2 linked regions of the Homo sapiens genome follow. The protein of the gene in region 2 interacts with the protein of the main gene of each other region in a biochemical or structural test. Each region holds a gene or a part of one and is shown on either strand. Other genes may lie near its edges.

The links. The genes of interacting proteins can lie anywhere in the genome.
Region 1: the proteins of PLA2G4A (region 2) and ITGB3 form a complex in vitro, tested with the Homo sapiens proteins (one study listed by BioGRID).

What each region holds. Positions count from the first base shown.
Region 1 is NC_000017.11:47,288,327-47,292,017, reverse strand, and holds part of ITGB3 (integrin beta-3 precursor), read right to left. Parts: intron 2,338-3,691; coding exon 2,242-2,337; intron 1,834-2,241; coding exon 1,744-1,833; intron 1,065-1,743; coding exon 930-1,064; intron 1-929. UniProt on the Homo sapiens protein: Integrin alpha-V/beta-3 (ITGAV:ITGB3) is a receptor for cytotactin, fibronectin, laminin, matrix metalloproteinase-2, osteopontin, osteomodulin, prothrombin, thrombospondin, vitronectin and von Willebrand factor.
Region 2 is NC_000001.11:186,831,064-186,836,704, forward strand, and holds part of PLA2G4A (cytosolic phospholipase A2), read left to right. Parts: intron 1-5,641. UniProt on the Homo sapiens protein: Has primarily calcium-dependent phospholipase and lysophospholipase activities, with a major role in membrane lipid remodeling and biosynthesis of lipid mediators of the inflammatory response.

The sequences.
Region 1 (3,691 bases), on a different chromosome or scaffold from region 2:
TTTGCAATCTGGAGTTCCTCAGCCTTCCCTATATGAAGGTCTGCAAAGCAAAAACACAAGCACGGGAATAGTATCGTTGTGACATATCTAGCTGGATGCAGAGACATGGTTTACAGTCAATAAATAATAAAAGGCTGTTTTTTCACTCCACATATGAAATAGACCAGCTCAAACTGAACAGAACCTGTGATCATATAAACACCCTGCTTTGGCCTGATTATAATTATCAGCAAGATGCACAAAGCACTATTTTGCACCACACAATCCCACATGGTGGTCAATCATAAGCTCAGGATCTACTTCAGTTCCCACACATTTCATAGCTTATGCAATAAAGCATGTTTCAGGACAATATTTCTAACATGGGATGTTTGCACAAGTGCCTGAGAGACAGATAGGTCAATAGAAAGGATCAGCGTATCCAAAGATCTATTTTCTTCCCCTCCTTCCTCCCCTCCCACCAACCCCTCTCCCCTTAGGCAGAAGCGGAGGAGAAACGACCAATAAGGAAAGTCGTGGAGAGACTGGAGTGTTTTACATTTTAGATTTTACTTTCTTGTGTCGTTTTACAAAAGAAAGGTATTAATTACCTTGGAAAGGCTGGCGACTGGTGAGGGACTGAAGGTAAAGAAATATTTTCCTTTGCAATCAACTGTGCATACACAAACAAAGGTAACCAAATTGTAAGTTTTTCAAATTCCTGAGAGTGAAGTTCACGTAACAGAAATGGCTTACGCAACAGAAGCCTCAGAGGAAAAGATTGGTGGATCCATTACATCTAACTTAGAATGACTTTCAGGAAACGTATTTTTCTTGCCCATATTTTTTTTCTGGTGGAAGGGGGCCATTTTTAGTCACTACAAAAGGAAGAAAGGGGGTTGGGTGCCCACAGATGCTCCAGGACAAAGGCCCTGCCCAGCCCACCTCACCGTGTCTCCAATCTTGAGTCCCATACAAGACTTGAGGCCAGGGATGACCTCATTGTTGAGGCAGGTGGCATTGAAGGATAGAGACAACTCTTCAGGGAGGTCACGCACTTCCAGCTCTACTTTAGAACGGATTTTCTGAGCAGAAAGGGGCACAAGAAGACAAGAAATTGAACTGAAAGGAAACGGGAAATGGCAAGAGCCAGTTCCATCCCAAGCCAAATCTGGCAAGTAGCTCTGGACTCACCCCAGCAGTGCCAGAGGCCAAGGTTTGACCTGGAAGCTGCCGGAGCACCCCTAGGACTCTGTTTCCTGCGCAGGAACCTGCTCCCTCTTTCCATCTCCACTTGCGTCTAGGTGAGTCTGGGTAAAATGTACCAGCTACACCCTCCTGCAGGCCTCACAGATGTTGCAAAAGGGGAGTGCCAATACTGGTCACCTTGGAAAGTGGCATTTTCTACCTAATGTTTCATCAACCTCACCTTCCCCATGTCTCAGCTCTCTCTTTTCCCTGTTATTGGAGCCCAGTTTTCCCTCACTCTGCCCCCACAATTCCAGGGCTCTGCTCCTTCTCCATCTAATCACCATCCCCATCCCCATCTTCTTTCCTTCTTTCTCTCTTCCTTCCTTCCTTCCTTCCTTCTCAGAAGGCTGCATCCCTTCTAGAGCGGGCCATTGCCTGGGCTCTGGGAGCACACGGAGAAGGCAGTAAGACCGTGTGGTAGACTGGCAACTGGGACTCACAAATCTGAGCCCTGCTGTGTAAGCCAAATGAGGTGGACTCTCCGCGGGACTATTCCCAGCACAAGACACTTACCCCATAAGCATCAACAATGAGCTGGAGGACATTGCTGGAATCCATGGACAGAACCCCAACTGTGGTCCCTGGGATGAGCTCACTATAGTTCTAGAAAGGAAAACAAAGATGTCCAGAGCTTACCAAAGGAAGCTGGTGGTCTCCAAAAGCCCTCCCCAAATCCCACTGAGAGTCCTGAGATGAAGATTGGAGGAAGGTACGGGATATTTCAATTGTCACTGCCAGGAATATATCTAGCAGTTTTTCAGCCCTGAGCAAAAGTAGAGGAAACCTCTCACACCCCTCACCACCTCCCCTCCACCACCACAAACACCAACACATACCTAGTAAGTTCAAGATTGCAGGAAAAAGGCCCAGAGTGCAATCTTTAGCTCCTGGGGAGTGGATTAGGGGAGACTCTTTCCTGATTGGGGACTGTATCCAATGCTAGCACAGGCTGGCTACCTGGGGCACCCACCATCACAGGGCCCACTCCAGGAAGCCCGAAGGCACAGTCACCTGATAGAGATTGACTACATTTTCAGTCACTGCAAAGATCAAATTGATGTTTTTCTGGGATAGCTTCTCAGTCATCAGCCCCAAAGAGGGATAATCCTAGGAAAATGAAGGATGTAGAGGTTAATGACGTCTCATGTACATCTCTAGGGTCTAAAGCTTAGAACTTATCTTGCTTGGGCTGTGGCTCAGAGTGTGGTGGTGCTTAAACCATTTCACTTCATGCTGAAAGTGAGACAAGAGCCTGGGCAACATAGCAAGACCCCATCTCTACAAAAAAATTTTTTTTATTTGCCAGATGTGGTGGTAAGTGCCTATAGTCCTAGCTACTGGGGAGGCTGAGGCAGGATCACTTCAGCCCAGGAGTTGGAGGTTACAGTGAGCTATGATTGCACCACTGCACTCCAGCCTGGGCAGCAGAGCAAGACTCTGTCTCTAAAAAAAAAAGGGGGGTGACAGTGAGATAAGAAGGGTAAGTAGCACAGAAGTCTACTTGTGAACTCCAGGGATAGACGAAGAGGTACAGGCCAGTGGTGTCAAAACTAAGCACCTCTTTCTTCCTGCTTGAATTTAATGCACTAATACTATGGAGCTGCTTCCGTGCACAAGGGACTGGGTTAGGCCTCTGTTTTGGAACTACTGACAAATGCCTTGGCCTGGCCCTCGTGATCCTCCACCGTGTGGTCTCAGTCTTTCTTTCCAAATATTGCTCACCTCTCTCCCTCTTCCACTCAGCAGTGATCTGGCCCACTGTCTCCCACCTGGAGTGGCCTTCTTGTTGGTAATCCTCCTCCTTTCTTAGGGCCTAGCTTAGCCCCCACCTTCTTCAGGAGACTTCCTTGGCCATCCCAGCTCATGATGACCTTTCCTCCCTTGGATACGTATAGCCACATTGGCTGTGCCACACCCATTTGGCACTAATCATGCATCTTGTGTTATTGTAAATATATATATCCTTTCTCCTCAAGTAGACCAAAAACTCCCCAAGGATAGAACCATACATAGTCTTGTTACCTCCCTCAGCCCCTGGCCCAGTGCCTTGCATAGATTAGGGGTCAAATGTTGCTGACTCATTGTCTGGTAGTGCTTGACTTGGATATGGCTGACACCAAGGAACTCAAGGACACTGTGCGGGGGCGGTGGTGAATCGTGAACATGTCCATGGGATCCTAGACCTTGCAGGGAGCTCATTAGATCCTCAGCTCAGTCTCCTGCCTTTACACAGGTACACCTTTAAGTCACCTAGATGAGGAAGTTGCTATATTGTCCTTAGGAGACGAAGAGTTCACACCTGCCCCAGATACCTAGAGCATTACAGCACATTTCTCTTATGGCTTATAGTAATTTCTCCTGATTCAATTTAAATATTTTCCTCTTGTTTAACCTTCTATGGCCATATAAAACAACTTATAAGAAGTTTTCTCATGTATAAGCTAAATCATCCTTTAGCCTT
Region 2 (5,641 bases):
TTGTTTTTGTTCCATCAAAGACACTTTTATAATCTTGTGACAGGTATGGACCCCTCCCTAGAATAATGCACATTATGCCATTCCAACACACACAAATTTAAAAACACCTTTAAGAAGTTCACAAATCCCCAAAGACAATTCATATTACATGAAAATGCAGTATTTCTTAAAACTTTGGAGTTTTCTGATAATATAAAATGATTAATTATAAAATCATTTTACTTATAAGTAAGGAACTAACAGTGGATATTGTAGCACCCACATAGTCATTTATTCATTGGTATTCTAGAACTCCAAGCAACTTGGTATAATGGAAAAAACTGCTTGCCTGAAACCAGGTGACCTAGGTTCTAGACTCAACCCCAATAATAATTAACTGTACAATATTACGCTTGACATTTTTCTGTAACATCTGTTGCTTTTATTGCCGAATGCAGTAAGTGAAACATAATAAGAAAATCAGATGCAAGTTATTTTTTATTGGATTGTGGGGTGTCTATATTTACTACTTTTATTCCAAAATTCCTAATGACATTTCCCAGAATGATTAGTTTTTATAACACTATTGTTTATTATAAAGATAAATCACACTCACTGCTTAAAATTTCATTAAATATAGAAAATTGCAAGGAAGAAAAAGAAAATATTACCTATTATTTCCCCCAAGGTACTTTTAAAATGTAATTCAATCATTAATTCAATCAACAAATATCTATTGAGTACCCAGTATGCATCAGCAAAGAGACAGACAAGAAGTTCATGTATATACATGTTTATATGTCTAGATATGTTTCTATACATACATGTAGTTTTACAAAATTGTGATCACACTGTTCATGCTGTTTTGTAACATGCTTCTCCCTCATTCATGAGATGCATTGTTAAAACATGTTTTTTTTAATAATCATGCATTACTTTGTATTCACATATTTAACAAATATTATTAAGTCCCTACTGTGTGTAATGCAAGTAATGGCAATCTATCCATGAGCAAAAGAGTATGGTTCTTACTATATGAAATTTTTCATCTGTATATAGGCTGTACTGGCCAATTATATCTTGTTGGATATTTAGATAGATTAGTTTTCCACTATTATAAATAATTGTTGGATATTTAGATTTATAATAGTTTTCCACTATTATAAATAATATTTCATCTAGGACCTTTTTTATATATGTTAGTATACATTTTTGTTTATTTCCTTATGGTAGATTCTTAAAGTTTATTTTCTAGGTTCTAAAAAAAATTTTATTACTTACAAGTTGTGAGATGATAATCCAATTACTTTATCTCCTTAAAATGTTGTCTTCTCAATTGTAAAATAGAAATAATAATAGTTGGGTATTTTGAGGATTCTTTAAAATATTTAGCGAAATCTCATGGAATGCTAGTGATTATTTTTGACATTTTGCTCTTGAGGAATATGGTATTCATTTATGAGCAATATAAAAGAGTAGAGTTTTCTATGTCAATACTGGGTGCCATCATCAAACAGAGCAAATGACAACAAATCCAACAACTTGGATAATTGATATACGAAAATAGTATCTTGTTTAAATTTACATTTCTTTGTTGAACAAAGTTGAGCAATTTTCATAGTGGCCACTTATATGTCTATGTTTGTGAATTGTCTCTTTCAATGTGATTTAAAAAATTTTTCTCTTTCAATTTCAAATATGATAGATATTAACGGATATAACTTACATAATCATAGCACTTTTGGGGTCCTCAGTAATTTTGAAGAATATTAAGAGTCTTAACAATATAGATGAAATTTTGAACTGGAAGTAGAAATTCTATAAACAATGTTTTTCTCATTTTTGGAGGGTTATTTTTAGTGTTTCCTGAAACCTTTCCCTTAAAAATGGGTGAGAATACATAGAAAAATGAGAGCAAATTATTTTTTATTCTCATAGACTAATAGTTTACAAATGATGGGAAACCTGGAGGGTTCAGAGATGATGGCCAAAACCCAGCACCAGAGACATCCTGGCCTGAATCATGTAAAGAAGATATTGTTAGGACTAAGGGTGGCGTGATGACTGTTCAAGTTTTGTAAGGCTGGGTGCAGTGGCTTACACCTGTAATCCCAACACTTTGGCAGGCTTGAGCCCAAGAGTTTGAGACCAGCCTGGTCAACATAGTGAGATTAATTAAAATCTTATTAAAAATTTTGAAAAAATCAGCTGGATATGGTGGCATGCACCTGTAATCCAGCAATTTGGGAGGCTGAGGCAGGGGGATCATTTGAACACAGGAGTTTGAGGCTGCAGTGAGCTTTGACCACACACCGCACTCATGCCTGGGTGATAGAGCAAGATTTTGTTTCTTATTAAAAAGAAAAGTTTTGTGAGGAAAATAATATTATTGGTTGTGAACAACCAATTTAGAGAAAATGAATTTCAGTTCTGGCCAACTCTTTGTCTTCTACCCCTTGACTATTAGGGCAATAAATAGTTGGGGGAACCAAAAGGTTGGTTCTGGAGTTCTTTCCAAAGAAGACAGTAAATAGAGCAGAGGTTATTCTGGTCCTCTGATACCATTACCTGCCTGTTAATAAAGGATGCATTACATGTATTTGCTACTTTTGCTATGTGATTCTAAGTTTTTTGATTCTTTTTGTGATTCTTAGTGCAAATCTTACAACACACCTTGAAAATACAGTTTACCTTTCCTTATACAAAAAATGAAATAAGCATAAACAACTCAATGCTCACCATAAGCAGATTTGTAAAGCTACCCTACCAGTCTAATCACTTATTAAATGAATTCAAATGAGCTTAGAGAAACTCAGCAGACACCTGACGCTGAAAGTTATCAGTGTCAGAGTTTAGCCATCACTCTCCATTAAAGATAATAGACCAAATTGGCTCTCATTTTTCTTCCCACTCCTTTTTTGGCACATGCAGTTGTGAATCAACTGCTTCCTTTTCCCCAATCTTCCTCTTCATTTGCTTGACTTCTGGAGTCTTCAGGAAAAAAATCGGTATTTTAGGTAACAGTGTGCTTTGAATTAGTAAACAAATGTCATTAATATGTATTCTTCTACAGTACAGAAAACTCATGTATTTATGATACTCAGCTTATACTTGCTTAGGTTTTTGTTTTGTTATTTAATTTACAAGCTGTTTTCTCACTATCTAGTTTGAAAAAAAAATCAGAGGCCCAGTATTTTTTTATTTTCACAGGCTTTGTGGTTGATAAAGGGATTGGTTATGAACTTTGTTTATTTCCACAAAACTGTGTAAGTTAGCAGTACAGGTATGACTATCCACATTTTACAGATGTGAAAAAGAGCTATTGAAAAGTCAAACGTTTTTTTCTTTTTTTTAATGTCTGCCTTATGATTCCATTTTGATGTATTTAAATGTTTAAATATATTGGTTTATATTTTTAGTTTTAATGTGTATTCTTTGAGGTTGTCACACTCTTTCTATTGGAGTTAACATCAGAAAAATTACTGGAGAAGGCCCAGGAAGTCCACTCTCCTGGTGCGTGTTTCCATAATAACTCAATCGTTCTGCCCTTATAACTTGATTACTGATTGACGTAATAGGGGAGGTTGTGCAATTTTGGAACTACATAGTACTTTGTACAGTAGTATGTATACTACTTTAAGAAAATAAAATATATTACATTTTATCTAAAAATACAAAATAAACACATTTCATGAGTTATGTAAAAAGTGCTGATTTTGCCAAATGTTTTGCTTTCAGGTTGGTCGTAGAGAATTTTCTTAGAATTTTCTAAGTATAACCTACAGAACCTATGGCTCTTTCTGGCTCTTATTAAACCTGGCAGTTGGCATAAAGCATTTGTATCAAAATGGTTACTCTGACCTTGGATTTATCATTTGGACAAAATAATTATTATTTTACCTTTCCAAATAATTCAGTAGCTTATGATAAAGCAGATACTCCTTCTCAGGGGTAAAACCCAACATTAGTTATACGCTTGACTTAGTATACATACTATGATGTGGTAATAAATAATGCATACTAGGTCAGGTTTTACTGCTGGATACAACTGTGCCACTAGAAACATTAGGTCAGCACATGGCTTCTGAATTTCAGTCAGTAAATTGACACACTTCTTATTTGCCCCATACTTTTATGCCCACAGTTTTGACAGGATAAGCAAGTTAAATGCAGTACACAGGCAGTAAACTGGGATGTTCACCCCTTATGGAAAAAAGTATTTTTGCAGAATTCTTGGATCTATAAGAAGAGACAGTGTCTGCCTAGGATAGTCTCGAGGCAGATAAATGGTGTTTTAAGTTTTGAAACAAAAAGGCAATTCATTTTGTGGACTTTTTAAAACATATATTTGATGCAATATTATGAAAGTATTGAAAAAAGTAATTTGGAGCAATTATGTAAGAATTTATTGAAAAGCAATCAGGGAAAAGTGTCTAAAGATGCACACAGTTATGGGATCATTCTGTATAGACTGCTGCGTCTATCATTATGATTTCTTAATATCCATTAGCCACTGTTGTGTCTACCACAAACCTCAAACAGGTTATCAACTTTCTTTTCATTCAACTGCCATGAAGAAGAGGTGGATGAATTTTAAATTTGCTGACGTCATGAACTTAGATCTCAAAGAGAGAACACTAGGAAATTTCTGTAGTTCACTTTCAATGATCAATGGTAATACATGTTCAGATAATAACTTTAAAATACTGTTATATCCCTGGTTCTTAGAAGACAATGCCACTAACCCATTTTAGAAAGATTTGTCACAGCAGCGATTCTAATTTAAAAGAGGCTTCTTGGTAAATTAAAGATTTAATTGCAAATCTGTTGGATGCTTACTTATAATCTATTACTTGGTACTTAATTTTTGAGCTGGTGACAACCAGAGATTTACATTTTATATATATAAAGCTTCACAATATTTACATGCATTTTTTCCCTCTCACCTTTATTACTTTCTGTAATGATGCCTTTGTTGTCAATGAAAAGCAATAAAAGAAAGAATCAAATTTGTGACACTCATTCACTGTTTGCAGAAATTGTTACAATCTGTTTAAAATATGTTTTAGGTTGACAAATTTGATTTGGTTGATCAATATATTATGTATTAATAAGTATTAATAAGCTATTTATATGAATTAATACCCCAGTATTAATATATAGCCTATGCATTAATATAATTAATAATCAATATGAATTAATTCAGGTAAATCATTAGTTATTCAATACACCATATATTACATATAATATACCTTAATAATAATATTGATTGTTATTATATATTAATATGTACATAAGATATTAATCAACCAAGCCAATTGTCAATCTAAGATGTAATTTAAACAGATAACAAGAATCTTCAAGCACTTTTTATCATCACAATGAAAAGGATGCTCTCATATAAATTTTAAGTTTCTGTGAAAAAATAATTTCTATATACCATTTTATTAATACATATAGTATACTTAGAAAAGTAGTAGGAGTAGGAAAATGCAATTTTTTAATACTTAGAAAAAGAACAGGTATTGTATGAAGCTATTTAGATAATATCTACTCTTCTTTTTCACTTACCAATTTTGCCTCCTATGTCAAGAAATGCAGATGTTAATGTCAATCAGGAATTGTTGGTCACTGAGCAGTATGCATTTATTCCTTCGCTAAT